Homo sapiens: one gene and its partner. The protein of the gene in region 1 purifies or fractionates together with the protein of each later gene. This does not show direct contact. Each region holds a gene or a part of one and is shown on either strand. Other genes may lie near its edges.

Region 1 (3,821 bases):
ATTTGTCGGGGTTCCTCACAGCTCGCCTGCACCGCAGCCCTGTTTCATAGACTTTGACAAGGTAAATGTGACAGTGGAGTTGCTGCCACCTGTAACTGCTGTGACATTTATCACAAATCTTAAACACAGGACTGCTGTTTTTCAGCTGAGATTGTGTCCTGTGGCATTTTCCAAAACCAGCTGTAAAGTATTTCACTTTAAACATCTGACCATTGATTCTGTAAAAAAAATCTTTGATGAAACGTGTTTGAAGGTTGTGTAGCGTGTAGAGGCGTTCGTAAGAACTGAGCCCCATGGCTCACAGGCCTGCAGGGCCCCTTCCTGCCCGACTGCCAGGTGCTGAGGTTCTAGCCCAGCCTCCTCTCTTCAGGCCTTCTGAGTCTTCCGCCTAGGATTGGGGTTCTCTTGTGAGGGATGAGGGTGCCTGTGGGCCTTTCTCCTAGTGAGCAGAGGTCCGGGCAGGATCGGGTAGGGGTGGAGAAGCCGCCAGAAGGGACCTGGGCGCCGAGGGGCAAGGCCTGAGTGCCAGGCCCCGTGGAGGAACATCCGACAAGCACAGTTCAGGTATTTGTTTTTATTGTTATTTATTCATTTTTTTGACACAGATTTTCGCTCTTGCCGCCCAGGCTGGAGTACAGTGGCACGATCTTGGCTCACTGCAAGCTCCGCCTCCTGGATTCAAGCGATTCTCCGGCCTCAGCCTCCCGAGTAGCCGAGATTACAGGCTCCCACCACCATGCCCAGCTAATTTTTGTTATTTTTAATAGAGATGGGGTTTCACCGTGTTGGCCTGGCTGGTCTCAAACTCCTGACCTCAGGTGATCCTACCACTTCGGCCTCCCACATGCTGGGATTACAGGCATGAGCCACAGCACCTGGCCTTTTATTTTTTATGTATTTTTTGAGACAAAATCTCACTCTGCTGCCCAGGCTGGAGGCCAGTGGCGCTATCACAGCTCGTTACAGCCTCAACCTCCTGGGCTCAAGCGATTCTCCCTGACCTCAGCCTCCCAAGTAGCAGAAACTACAGGTGTGTACCACCATGCGTGGCTAATTTTTTTTTTTTTTTTTGGGTAGAGACAGAGTCTCACTGTGTTGCCTAGGCTGGTCTCAAAGTCTTGGACTCAAGCAATCCACCCACCTTGGGCTCCCAAAGCACTGGGATCACAGGCATGAGCCACGCCCAGGCGAAAGCTCAGTTTTAAACAGCTGGTTTCAGAGCCACCAGCTCCATTTCCCATGTCTGGCTCCATTTTAGGCTCACGGAATTTGAAGACACCCCCACCAGTCAGTTGACCATTGATGAGTTCATGAAGATCGACCTGGAGGAGGAGTGCGACCCCCCCTCGTACACAGCTGGGCAGAGGAAGCTGCGGATGAAGCAGGTAGCGCCGGCTTTGGTGTCTGTCTGTGCTGGGCTTGCCAGCCTTGGGGGGAAGCCACACACCCCGACTGGGGTTGTAGCAGAGCTGGTGCCATCCCAAAGCCTCATAGCCGCTCTTCAGTGCTATGACCAGCCAGAGCCCGAGGCTCCGGGATGCCCCTCACACAGACTCTGGGAAGTGCCACCTCTTCCCATGGGGGACACAGGCCCATAGCTCCACCTCCATCGCTGCGTACCCCTAAGTTCTAGCAGCCTGTGGTCCCTGGGGCCCACGCGGCACCCCAGAGGCTGCGCTGTGCACCAGGGCCTCCCTTCACGAAGCCTCTTGCCCTGTTCCCTTTCAGCTTGAACAAGTCCTGTCAAAAAAACTGGAGGAGGTTGAAGGTAACCAACCAATCTTCCCATGTAATGCTTCTGTTTTGTTGGGAAAATTGATTTTATGCTGACTTTTTGCTTTTAACTTATGACTTCAGGTGAAATATCCAGTTACCAGGATGCAATTGAGATTGAACTAGAAAACAGCCGGCCAAAGGCCAAGGGGGGCCTGGCCAGCCTGGCAAAAGATGGTGAGTCCACTGTGCCCGGCCCCTATTCAGACCTTTAAAATGTGCTAGAGTCTCAGCAGATCTCTTCAGGATCAGAAAAAGACCTGGAAAGGGAAGGGGATTATCTACAGAATGTAAGTTTACCACCGGGCAGGGTGGCTCACGCCTGTAATCCCAGCACTTTAGGAGGCTGAGGCAGGCGGATCACGAGGTCAGGAGATGGAGACCATCCTGGCCAACATGGTGAAACCCTGTCTCTACTACAAATGCAAAAATTAGCTGGGCGTGGTGGTGCGCACCTGTAGTCCCAGCTCCATGGGAGGCTGAGGCAGGATAATCATTTGAACCTGGGAAGTGGAGGTAGCAGTGAGCCAAGATCGCACCACGGCACTCCAGCCTGGGTGACAGAGCGAGACTCCGTCTCAAACAAAAAAAAAAAGAATGTAAGTTTCCCCTACAAAAGACAGCTTTGCGGGGCCATTTCAAAATATGTCAAAGATATTTTGGGGTAAAATATTTTTATTTCTTTCAGGGCCTGCTACCTGTCATTGATGTTGTACTAGAGTCAGGTTGGAATTTGGTATCTGTTGCTACAAAGTCTGGTCAATCATCAGATCTGTGTTTTGATGTTAATGCTGATGAGCTGTGCCTGAACTCCAAAGGGAGGGGGTATAAGCGGGTATAATGAGGCGTGTCTGACCCCGCCCCCACTTCCCATCATGGTCTGAACTAGCTTTTCAGGTTTCTTTGAAATCTCCTTGGCCAAGAGAAGGGATCCATTTGGTTGGTTGTGGGGCTTAGAATCTTGTTTTTGATTTGTATTCTGTACTGTGTATTTTCACTTGGGGGTTAGTAGGAGCCACGGGAGGGCCTGAGAACAGAGGCAGGAGGTAGGGAGGCTGTTGCAGGAACCCAGGGTGAGAGACCTGGCCCAGCCTGGTCGAACTCTGGAAGTACTTTTGGGGCAGAGCCAACAGTCCAGGGAATGTGCATGTCCCGGGAATGTGGCAGCCGGAGCCCCCAAGGCTCCTGGCACCTGCGGCCTGGGCCCACTTGCCCGGGGAGGGGCTTCTGAGAGGCTGCTCTGTCCAGAGGTCATCGTCCACTGACAGCTGCTCTCTGGGGATCAGGTGCTTTCCCCCAAGGAGCCATTCCTCACCATGGGGACCCCTCCGGGACTCAGTGCTAGCCAGGAATCTTGTATTGGAACACATTCAGAAGAAAGCAGTCTAAGACTAGGGAGTGGGTCAAGCATGGTGGTTCATGCCTGTAATCGCAGCACTTTGGGAGGCAAATACAGGAGGACTGCTTGAGCAGAGTTCAAGACCAGCCTGGTCAGCATAGTGAGACCCCATCTCTACAAAAAATAAAAAAATTAGCTGGGCATGGGAGTGTGCACCTGTAGTCCCAGCTCCTCGGGAGGCTGAGGCCGGAGGATCACTTGAACCCAGGAGTTCGATGTGCAGTGAGCTATGATTGCACCACTGTATTCCAGCCTGGGCAGCAGAGCCAGACCCTGTCCCCAGTATACACACACACAAAATCCAGAGTGGGATGTTTTAAGATGAGTTTTGCCAACCTTAAAGGAAGAAGCAGAGGCAAAAGTAATCTACATAATTTATTTGGGTCAAGCTTGAGGATTGCAGCCAGGGTGGACATATCCCATTGCCTTGAATATACACTCTGGTGAGCAGCAGTTACACATGGACTTTTTCTTTTTTTGGAGACAGGCTCACTCTGTCACCCAGGCTGGAGTGCAGTTGCATAATCTCAGCTCACCACAACCTCTACCCTGTAGTTTGAAGCAATTCTCCTGCCTCACCCTCCTGAGTAGTTGGGACTACAGGCATGCGCCACCACGCCCAGCTAATTTTTGTATTTTTTGTAGAAAC
Region 2 (3,463 bases), on another chromosome or scaffold:
AACTCAGCTGATCAATTAACTGATGAATTCTAGCACCAAACCTGCTCCCTATAATTTTATAACCAGCCTCAGAGAACCTTTAAAGGGATTGATCATTCACTCATTTATCCAGCGAATGTTTATAAAATGCCTAATGTGTCAAACACTGTTGTGCGTGCTGGGAATACAACAGTTGGAAATTCAGGCACAAAGACTCTCATTCATGGAGATTACATTCTACTGGCAATTTCAGTGTGTGAGCTAAATTGAGTGGTGCTAACTGTTGACTTGGCTGGTTGACTGAAACTTGGACTCAAAATTTGCCTACACTAAATGAAGTTTAAATGCCAGAAATTTCCTCATATATTATAAAGTACCCAAAGATAAATGGAGTTTGGAATGCTAGAATGAATTTATCATGTAAAATCAAGATTACCCATACCTCAAATATGTATTCCAGTAGCATCTAGAAGACAATCTCTTCACTGACACTGATCTGGTCACAGGAAATAGAGATATACTACTGTAAGATTATTTTATTATACAGTAAGTGATATAATGTCCTTGAAGTTAGAATGATAAGTTCATGATTTTCTTTCAGTCAGTTCAGGCTACTAGAAAAAATACACCATAGACTGACTGACTGCCTTAACAAACATTCATTTCTCACGTTCCAGAGGCTGAGGAGTCTCTAGAACTGGACTCTAAAACACAATCAAGGTGTTGGCAGGTCTAGTGTCCAGTGAGAGTCCATTTCCTGGTTTATGCATGGTCATCTCATTCTGTCTTCACATGGCAAAGAGCAGAGAAAGAGAAAACAAACTCTCTTCTGTGTTGTCTCATAAGACACATAATCTCATCATGAGGGTTCCACTTTCAAGATGTAATTACCTTCCAAAGGTCACACTTCCTAATGCCATCCCTTAGGGATTAGGACTTCAACATGTAAATTTGGAGAGGACATAAATATGCAATCCCTCACAATGATGTATGCTATAAAATCTCAAGGAATCAAATGACAAGGATTTACAGTTAATAAGCCAACAAAGGAGACAATATGTAATATAAACACACTCAGCTACTCTAAGGGAAAGCAGAAAAAGAAGAAAAGGAGAACAAAGAAGACATAGAATAAACAACAAATAGTAAGTTAGTAATTTAAACCTAAAAACATCAATACATTGAACGTAAATGATCTAAATACCCCAGTAAAAAGACAGAGATTGTTAACTGGATAAAAAAGGAAGGCCCAACTGTATGTTGCCCACTAAACACCCACTTTAAATATGAAAGCATAAATAGGTTAAAAGTAAAACCATGATAAATAAAGATATGAAAGATATAACAGGGAAAAACCCATGTCAAATTATTAGAGGTTAAAAATTACAATTTCTGAGAGAAAACATACTTTGGATGGGATTAATGACAGATTAAACACTGTGGAAAAAAGATTAGTGAACTGAAAGACATAGCTATGAGAACTATAAAAAATGAAATAATGAAGGGTAAAATAATAAAAAGCATGAACATCATTTTCATGTACATATGTGTATACACAAAAAGATTTGTGAACTTGAACAAGGCAAGAGATACAATCTAAACTACAAAGAGAACAAAAGCTAACCCCTACCTTGGCCCCCGGAGTAAGAGATATCATTCTGAGGAACACCAAGTGGAAGCCTCTAAAACTGCCCCCCTCCCCAGCCAAACTCTATGATCAAGATAGTAAATGAAAAACAATATTGTGGGAGGGGTAGTGAGGTTTATAAGATATAAAAAAGTAAAATATATTTCATATCTTGTAAACCCTACTATACATATTAGTGCAGGGAGCCAAAGGCCCATGGGACATGACAAACTCAGCATTCCGCTGGAGGCTATATGATCAAACAGCAAACTGTTTATCATGAATGCAGGATGTGGGCAAACTCACACTGCCCTGCCACCATTGCCACAGTTACCATATTAACAGGGCTTTTCCCCTGCACATGTTCACTAGGACTTAAGCTGTGACTTGCTGTGGAAGGATTTTCCACCTTCACTGAATCCCCCCGTTTCTCCCTTGAGTGTATTCTCTTATGTTTAACAAGGCAAGACATATAGAAGTAAGCTTTCTCACACTCATCACAGCCATAGGGTCTCTCTCCCGTGTGAGTTCTGTGATGTACAATGAGCATTGTCTTTGTAAGGAAGGCTTTCCCACAGTCACTGCATTTATAGGGTTTCTCTCCTGAGTGAATTTTCTGATGTCTAATGAGTCCTGACTTCTGTGAACAGGGTTGCCCACATTCAGGACATACAAAGGGAGTCTTTCCTGTATGATATCTCTGATGTGCTACAAGGCAAGACTTCTGGCTGAAGGCCTTGCCACAGTCAATGCATCCATAAGGTTTCTCTCCAGTGTGAGTTCGTTGATGTATGTTGAGATTGCCCTTCTGAATGAAGCCTTTTCCACATTCACTGCATGTATGAGGCTTCTCTCCTGTATGAGTTCGCTGATGTACAACGAGTAGTGATTTTCTGGAGAAAGCTCTCCCACATTCGCTGCATTGATGGGGCTTAATTCCCGTGTGAATCCTTTGATGTTCAGTAAGCTCAGATTTCCTGGGGAAGGCTTTCCCACATTCACTGCACCCGTATGGTTTCTCTCCTTTGTGAGCTCTCTCGTGTTCAGTGAGCCTGTACCTCTTGTAGAAGGCTTTCCCACACAAGCTACACCCGTGGGGTTTCTCTCCTCTGTGAGCTCTCTCGTGTTCAGTGAGCCTGTACTTCTTGTAGAAGGCTTTCCCACACAAGCTACACACGTGGGGTTTCTTTCCTGTATGAATTCTCTTATGCTCAGTGAGCTGAGACTTCTTGAGGAAAGCTTTCCCACAGTCAGTGCATTCATGGGCTTTCTCTATGTTGTGTGTTTGCTGATGTTTAAGGAATTGTGACTTGGTGCTGATGGGTTTTCTACTTTCAGGGAATTCAATTTCCGTAGGCATTTGTTCATGATTATCATGGAGAAAAGCTCCATCTCCATTAAACTCAGCAGGCTCCTTTCTGTTGTATCTTCTGCTCTGGTTGGTTAAACCTAAATATGATTTCAAAGTTCTTCCGTGTTCATAGCGTTGTCCCGTCCTCTTCAGTATTTTTTGGTTTTGCAAGGGCTGCTGCAGATGATCATCAGCTTTCTCAATTTCTAAGAGAGAGAACAATAAATCCTTCCATGATCATCACACGGAATAAAACTGCTTCAAAGATGCCTTGGGGTTGGCTGGCTTTTTACTGGAACCCCTATAATACCAACATGGAAGGAATTCCAAGTATAAGTGTTCCCTATCTGTTAAAAAAACTTTTAAGAATTGTAGTTAAATACATATAAGATAAAATTTGCCAGCTGGGTGCGGTGGCTTATGCCTGTAATCCCAGCACTTTGAGAGGCCAAGGCGGGTGGATCACAAGGTCAAGAGATCAAGACCATCCTGGCCAACATGGTGAA

The links.
Region 2: the proteins of BRF1 (region 1) and ZNF649 purify together in Homo sapiens (affinity purification with mass spectrometry, with the first as the bait; one large-scale study listed by BioGRID). This does not show direct contact.

Annotation. Positions count from the first base shown.
Region 1 is NC_000014.9:105,224,198-105,228,018, reverse strand, and holds part of BRF1 (transcription factor IIIB 90 kDa subunit), read left to right. Parts: intron 1-876; exon of another isoform or gene 877-1,030; intron 1,031-1,258; coding exon 1,259-1,385; intron 1,386-1,728; coding exon 1,729-1,768; intron 1,769-1,857; coding exon 1,858-1,950; intron 1,951-3,821.
Region 2 is NC_000019.10:51,888,735-51,892,197, forward strand, and holds the end of ZNF649 (zinc finger protein 649), read right to left. Parts: intron 3,164-3,463; coding exon 1,884-3,163; 3' UTR 501-1,883; downstream 1-500. UniProt on the Homo sapiens protein: Transcriptional repressor. Regulator of transcriptional factor complexes and may suppress SRE and AP-1 transcription activities mediated by growth factor signaling pathways.